Homo sapiens: one gene and its partner. The protein of the gene in region 2 purifies or fractionates together with the protein of the main gene of each other region. This does not show direct contact. Each region holds a gene or a part of one and is shown on either strand. Other genes may lie near its edges.

Region 1 (3,809 bases), on a different chromosome or scaffold from region 2:
ATGCCTTTAGCCCCAACCCCAAGATCAGGAGGGTACTCTATTTACTGACCCATGGCTCAGCAAGAACTGGGGGGACACAGGCATCAGAGTCCAGTGGTCTTCCCTTTTTTCTTTTTCTTTTTAAATGTTTCAAGAAGTCTATTACTTCTTGTCACCTGAAACTCACACAGACCCTGTGTGCATCTCACACCATGGGGCCTTTCCTAACTGAAGACAAGATAGGCTCCTGCCTCACTTTGAAGCCTTTTAAACCTAAATTTTGGCCGGGCGCAGTGGCTCATGCCTGTAATCCCAGCACTTTGGGAGGCCGAGACGGTCGGATCACGAGGTCAGGAGATCGAGACCATCCTGGCTAACACGGTGAAACCCCGTCTCTACTAAAAATACAAAAAATTAGCCGGCCTGCTGGAAGATGCCTGTAGTCCCAGCTACTCGGAAGGCTGAGGCAGGAGAATGGCGTGAACCTGGGAGCTTGCAGTGAGCCGAGATCGCGCCACTGCACTCCAGCCTGGGCAACAAAGCGAGACTCTGTCTCAGGAAAAAAAAACAAAAACAAAAACAAAAAAAAACCTAAGCTTTGGAAGTTTTTAAAGGTCTTAGTCATATGCTCATCATTCTCCTATCCCCAATTCCTACATAAAGTCAAGAAAAAGAGCCACAGTGTATTCTGGAAGGACACAGTTGGTCTGCTTCTTTGGAGGACTCTACCTCACCTGTGCTCCTGAGCCCAAGGCCCACTCTCTCTGAAAGAAGAGCCTGGGAGAAGGACAAGAAGAGGGTGAGGAGATGAATGGAGAGCATGATGAGTGAGGGGTACTTACTGAGCAAATTACAGGTGACCCAATGGCATGGCTGGGCAGATGCCAGGTGAAAATGCCACGATGCAAGAGGAAACCATGGTACAAAGACCAAAAAGGAGAGACTACCCCACCCCAAGAGGTATTCACAGAGGCTTAGCAGGTGGATGGGGTTTTGCTAAAGACATCTGTCCCTCCCCACAGCCCTTTTAGCTCTTGCCATAAACAAGGCCACCATGTTTAGCTGGGGGGCTAAGGAGGTTGAGTATGTACTGTCATGTACAAAATGCATCAAGGGTCAAGCCCAGGAATCTTCAGGACCCCAATCTTCACAAAGAACCCACATTCTAGGAAATCTGGATCATTGACATTCATTTCAGGACACAGAAACCTTAAAACAATAGATCAGCTAATAGAGATAAGAAGCCCGGGGTGGGACTCGCAACGCCATCTGACAGCATCCTCAGGCTGACCTTACCTTCTTTGCTGGACTACTTTCTGCAGCCTGGGATGGGGCTCTGCTCAGCTGTGGGAGTAACTCGGCCTCCGACACTTGTTCAGACTGTAGCAAGAGATCAGAGAGAGGACAGAAATGCAAAACCACAATCACCTAAATATACAATAAAGAGCACTTAGGAAGATAGTCACCAAGGGAAAACTGATTTAGGCCAAGTTGCAGCCAAGAATGCTTAAGTCTGCTGATCCTTGGGAAAAACCTCCCATAGATGCTGCTATTAACCTTCCCATCCCTCCTTCCCAGATTGTTCAACCTTAGGAAAAGGAATCATGGGAATTTCTTCTGTAATTGAACATATGTATTGCTAAAAAACTAATGCTTCGCAACAACAAACTCTAAAAGTAACAAGGCTTATCGGAAAAACAGGGTTGAAAACAAAGATTTTAACTTGAGCACCAACAAAAACAATCAACATCATTAAAAACACTGAATTTTTTAAATGTTAAATTTCTAATAAAGAAATACTCTATGAGCAGTGTGAAGAAGAAGAGGTAAGAACTATCCCCCAGGCCAACCAAAGCCCACGCACTGCTGCATCCCCAGATCCAGCACCTACATTCCACTGCAGTCGCCTCCACCATGCCCAAGAGAAAGGCTGAAGGGGACGCTAAAGGAGATAAAACCAAAGTAAGGACAAACCACAGAGAAGATCTGCAAGGTTGTCTGCCAAACCTGCTCCTCCGAAGCCCAAGCCTAAAGAGGCCCCTGCAAAGAAGGGAGAGAAGGTAAAGGGGAAAAAGGAAAAAGCCCATGCTGGCAAGGAGGGGAATAACTCTGCAGAAAATGCAGAGGCCAAAACAGAGCAGGCACAGAAAGTTGAAGGCGCTGGGGATGCCAAGGGAAGTGTGTGCATTTTTGATAACTGTGTATTTCTGGTGACTGTGCAGTTTGAAGTATTATTTTTTTATTAAGTTTTATAAAAATGCAGAATTGTTTTTATGCCTTTATTTTAAGCCATGTTGTTAGCACACGGAACACGTCATTGTTGTTTTATGGAGAAGGGGTATATGTCACTAATAGAATGTCTCTGAGGCCAGGCACCGTGGCTCATGCCTGTAATCCCAGCACTTTGGGAGGCCGAAGCAGGCGGATCACCTGAGGTCAGGAGTTTGAGACCAGCCCGACCAACATGGCGAAACCCCGTCTCTACTAAAAGTACAAAAACTAGCCAGGCGTGATGATGGGTTCCTGTAATCCCAGCTACTCAGGAGGCTGAGGCAAGAGAATCACTTGAAGCCGGGAGGCGGAGGCTGCAGTGAGCCAAGATCGTGCCACTGCACTCCAACCTGGGCAACAAGAGCAAGACTTCGTCTCAGGAAAGAAAAAAAAGAAAAAGAATGTCTATGAAGCTGGACTGATGTGGAGAAAACACCTTTCCCTTCTAGTTTTAAAGACATCTTCTTGGCTCCCAGAAAGAGGGACTGTCTGACGTTGACACACACAGTCACCTTCGCACAAAGGCCTTGTGGTGTGGAGAAACAAATTCCTCTTTATTTCCCCCTCTCCCTCTCTGCCTTCAGTATACACTTAACTCCCTCAAACCCAGATACCTGTTGGGGTCTGGCCCCCAATAACTGGTTACCAGTCAGGCTGGCAATCTGGACTTTCCAGCGAGAACCCTTGAAAGACACGTGCTCTGTTTCTAGATTGTGGATCTTCAGATAAATTCTGCCATTTTCATTTCATTTCCTGAAAGTCAGGGTCAGCTCATGAAAAGTTGTTAAACAGCACGTTGAATGTGAAATGTCAACCCTCACTCTGAACTTTCCCTCTTCAGGGTACCAAATGAAGACTTCATTGGGTTTTACCATGGCTTTCTGATTTTGGAAGTCCATTGAAGGAGGGAGTCTGAAAGTTGTATACTGTTAATGATTGTCGCTCATGTCCTGCCTGAAATACCATGACTGTTCACAAAAAGTATCTTTAATAAACCTGGACACAGTTTGGGAAAAAAAAAAAAAAAAACTCTAGTAAATATGGCCCTTCTTAAAAAAGGAAGGGGGACTGTGGTCGAAGGAGTTATCAGAAGGGTCAAGGGTGCTGAGTGGAATGGAATCAGTGACTAAACTCACCAAGATTGGCAAGGAATGTCCCCAAAGCACTTCAAGACAGAGTGGGTGCCAATCAGTCAAGTGGAAGAACACAGGGTGACTGCGCCTCATGAGCAGCTCTCTATGTCCCCCATTTCCCCCAGTCTTCTGCCTTCAGGTGTGTTAGTCTGCTTTCAGCCACTAGTAGCCAGTGATGCCAAAACATTCATGTGCTGAGAATGAACCCTACATATGAACCAATGTGACTTCTACATCATACTGACACCAGTCATCTACTGACCCACAGATAATCCTCATTACAGAAACACACATTGTAGCACAACAAACTGACTTAGTATGCCCACTTCATCCCTAACGTGGCCTTCTCTAACCTCCTTCAGAGCATGGCTTCTTCCTCTGACTCCACTGAAATGGCTAGTTCCCAAGGGCGCTAACATACCCCCA
Region 2 (3,375 bases):
CTCCGAGCCCTGGCAGATCCTGACCTTTGACTTCCAGCAGCCGGTGCCCCTGCAGCCCCTGTGTGCCGAGGGCACCGTGGAGCTCAGAAGGTGGGTGCAGAGAGGGCTGGGGGGCAGGGAGGGGCTGCTGCTTGCCCTTGGAGTTCTCACCCCCGTGGTGAGCACAGCTGGCCTGGGAGACGCTGACACGTGGAGGGGGTATTCGTCCTCCCCACAACCTTGCCCTTCCCTGTCAGAGTGGCCCTGCGCGTGTGGTGGTTCCCACGGTCCTGTGTGTGCCACTGGTGGAGGAGCCAGGAAGGGCTCTGCTCCCCCTCTACAGCTGAGGCTCCCTTGTTGGATCACAGCTCAGGAAGATGGGAGCTTACTTCCTGTGGTCACCGATGCACCATTTTCCTGAACCCTCCTGGGAGCTGAAGCAGGTCAGGGTCAGCAAGTGCTGCTTGCGTCCAGGGACGGGCAGCCCTGTCCTGCTCCGGCCCTCACCCCACCCTCGCCCGAGGAGTGACTTCTCCTGGAAGCACCTCCCAACTCGGGGCAGGCAGCCAGGCAGGGCGGGCGCCATCACCTGAGCTCCCAGGGTTGCTGTCTGGGGCATCAGAGGGGCCTTCCGGCCTTCAGTGCCAGGCTGTGCCTCAAGCTCCCCCAGACCCTGCAGCCACACCGGCCCTGCCCCATGTGTGGCCCGGCTGCAGGGCTCGGGTTGGCTCAGGTGGGGGCTTGGCTGCGGCTCTTCTGGCTGGGGTTTTTCTGAGGAACGTTTATGTAACTGCAGCACTAGGAACTCCCGGCAGGGCAGGAAGGAAGTGGGGAAGACCACAGGTTTCTGGAAAGCCGCAGGAGCTGCAGCTGTTCCCCCGCTGCCTCTTGTGTGACTACTTCTGCTGGGCCCCCCTCTCCTTGACAGGCCCGGGCAGAGCCACGCAGCGGTGCTATGGATGGAGTACCACCTGACCCCGGAGTGCACGCTCAGCACTGGCCTCCTGGAGCCTGCAGACCCCGAGGTAGTGCCTGCGCACCGGGCCCAGTGTGCGTGCAGACCCTGAGAGCAGGCGCCGCCTGGGGAGGCCTCCCTGCCCCCATGCTCTGGGTGTTTCTGTCACAAGTTCTTCGGGCCAGATGATGACCCCTCAGTGGTCCTGGGCCATCTGGCCCCTGAGCAGCTTCTCTCTGCTGCGAGCTGCCTGGGCTGGAGGCTGGCTAGGAAGGAGGCTCAGGTGCCAGGGAGCCCTCACCATCTTCCTGCTCTTCTTCCTACAGGGGGGCTGCTGCTGGAACCCCCACTGCAAGCAGGCCGTCTACTTCTTCAGCCCTGCCCCAGATCCCAGAGCACTGCTGGGTGGCCCACGGACTGTCAGCTATGCAGTGGAGTTTCACCCCGACACAGGCGACATCATCATGGAGTTCAGGCATGCAGATACCCCAGACTGACCACTCTTGAGCAATAAAGTGGCCTGAGGGCTGGGGTTCTGAGTGGCTCATGGCTTTCTAGCGGGGAAGGCTGAAGGCCCTCCTCTCCTCTCTGGGAGCTGCTCGGCCTCAGGGATGGGAAAGACTGCGCCGTGTTGCATCTTGTTGCATCTTTGCACTGCTGGCCTCTGGCTCCAGCTGTGGCAGGAAGCATGAGAGGGTGACTGAATTTGGAGCCCTGGAGGGGCTGGGAAGACCCCCCTGCTTGTGCTTCTGAGGTGCTGAGAATGCTCCAACACAGAGACATCTCTCCCCAGCTGGGAAGGGAGTGGAAGCACAGGGAGCTTGTGGGGCTGGCCGGTGGGGTTGTCCACGCCGCCCTTGGCGAGCAGTCCCCGTGGCGGGAGCCTGTCCTGTCTGTCTCACTCTCGAGGATCTCCGGGTCCCTGCTCTTCTGGCTTCTGCTAGGAGGGTGGAGATGCTGAGTTGTGGCTGGGTCTCTGGGGCTTGAAGACCCTGGCTGGGCCCGGGCTGAGAGGCCTGGGTTCTGGCCCTTTCACCTGACAGGTAACTTCAAGCCACATCCATAGGTGTCTGGCCTCAGTGCTGCACCAGCTGGTGGCCTGCCAGGACCTGAGACTGGACACAAGGCAGCTGTCCCAGAGCAGTTCCTGAGATGCAGGCCCAGGAAAGTGGCTGTCAGGGGAGCTGGGAGGCAGCCCTGTTCCCTGCACCTCCCTCAGATTGGAAAGCCCCTCCTGCAGGTGGGGTATGGCAGGGAGCAGCCCCTGCCCAGCGCCGCTTCACCAGGAAGGTCAGTAGGTGCCGTGGCCTTGCTTCTCTCACACACTAACCCCCCTTTGGTTATGTCCCAGCTCTCAGAGGTAACAGCAGACACCACGTGAGAGAACCCAGTGGCCTCTGGCTCGCAGCTTAGAAGGTGAGGCTTGTGCCAGGCCAGCCGAGCCGCCTGTATGAGCAGAGTTCCGGTGTCCTCGGATTCAGGGCAGACTTGGGCAGTGCCTGTCCTGCAGTTGGGGGCAGGAACTCCCTCCCCTGCCCCCAGGCGTGCCCCTGAGGCCTGGCCCCAGCTTGTCGCTGAAATAAGTGGAGAACACCAGCCTTGAGCCTCACAGTTTTATTTTCTCCTCGTTATCCATCCTTCCTTTCAGCACCAGTAAGGAAAAAGAACACCTCTCTTCGCAAAATATTTTATCAGGTGTAAAGACTTGTTTTTCTTCTAGGGAAGAACCGTCTGGATATATATTTGATAATGTTTTTACCAAAACCATAGGTGTGCTTACCATAGAAAACCCCTAATGTCCCATGAAGATACAATACAGAAAAAAATACAGAAATTAAAAAAGTTTTTATAACAGTATTTCTAAATCTCAGCAAGTTAAAAAGCAATAGTTAAAAAGCATCAAGATTAATATACTTAAAACTTAAGGTGGTTTTGGACAAATGAAAATGAACATTTCCTTCCTCAGTGGCCCCCGCGCCTTGTGGCTTCCTTTGAGACTGGGCCTAGGGCAGGAACAGAGTCTTGGTATGGGCCTCGGGTGACCCGTGTGCCCACCCCTGCTAGGCCTTAGATGCCACAGAATCTGAGATCCAGCAATGGTTCACTTTAAAAAATCAGTGGAAGGGCCTGGCCTGCACACAAGGCCCGGGAGTCCATAGGCAGCCACAATGAGACACGTGGGTGGGGGGGTCCCGGTCTTGGTGCTGAGGGAGGTGTGCGGGGGCCTGGGGGCCGCACATCCTTACTCTGGACCCCAGGACCTGACTAGGCAGAGGCGACCTTGTGATGACAGAAAATGACTTGCCTAAGGCCGCCTGTGAGGTGGGAGGGGAGGAGCATGCAGCCCTGACTCCCACGCCTGCTGCCCCGGGAGGGGGTGCCTGGGTGGGGAAGCTATGTTGGGGTCTGGTGTGGGGGCCCTGCCCGGGCCTCAACTGCTC

What was found.
Region 1: the proteins of PRMT7 (region 2) and REPS2 purify together in Homo sapiens (affinity purification with mass spectrometry; one large-scale study listed by BioGRID and IntAct). This does not show direct contact.

Annotation. Positions count from the first base shown.
Region 1 is NC_000023.11:17,131,374-17,135,182, reverse strand, and holds part of REPS2 (ralBP1-associated Eps domain-containing protein 2), read right to left. Parts: intron 2,343-3,809; exon of another isoform or gene 1,785-2,342; intron 1,360-1,784; coding exon 1,276-1,359; exon of another isoform or gene 1,275-1,275; intron 1-1,274. UniProt on the Homo sapiens protein: Involved in ligand-dependent receptor mediated endocytosis of the EGF and insulin receptors as part of the Ral signaling pathway. By controlling growth factor receptors endocytosis may regulate cell survival.
Region 2 is NC_000016.10:68,355,794-68,359,168, forward strand, and holds the end of PRMT7 (protein arginine N-methyltransferase 7), read left to right. Parts: coding exon 1-90; intron 91-236; exon of another isoform or gene 237-347; coding exon of another isoform or gene 348-417; exon of another isoform or gene 418-422; intron 423-907; coding exon 908-1,004; intron 1,005-1,260; coding exon 1,261-1,431; 3' UTR 1,432-1,977; coding exon of another isoform or gene 1,978-1,981; 3' UTR 1,982-2,000; coding exon of another isoform or gene 2,001-2,085; 3' UTR 2,086-2,791; downstream 2,792-3,375. UniProt on the Homo sapiens protein: Arginine methyltransferase that can both catalyze the formation of omega-N monomethylarginine (MMA) and symmetrical dimethylarginine (sDMA), with a preference for the formation of MMA.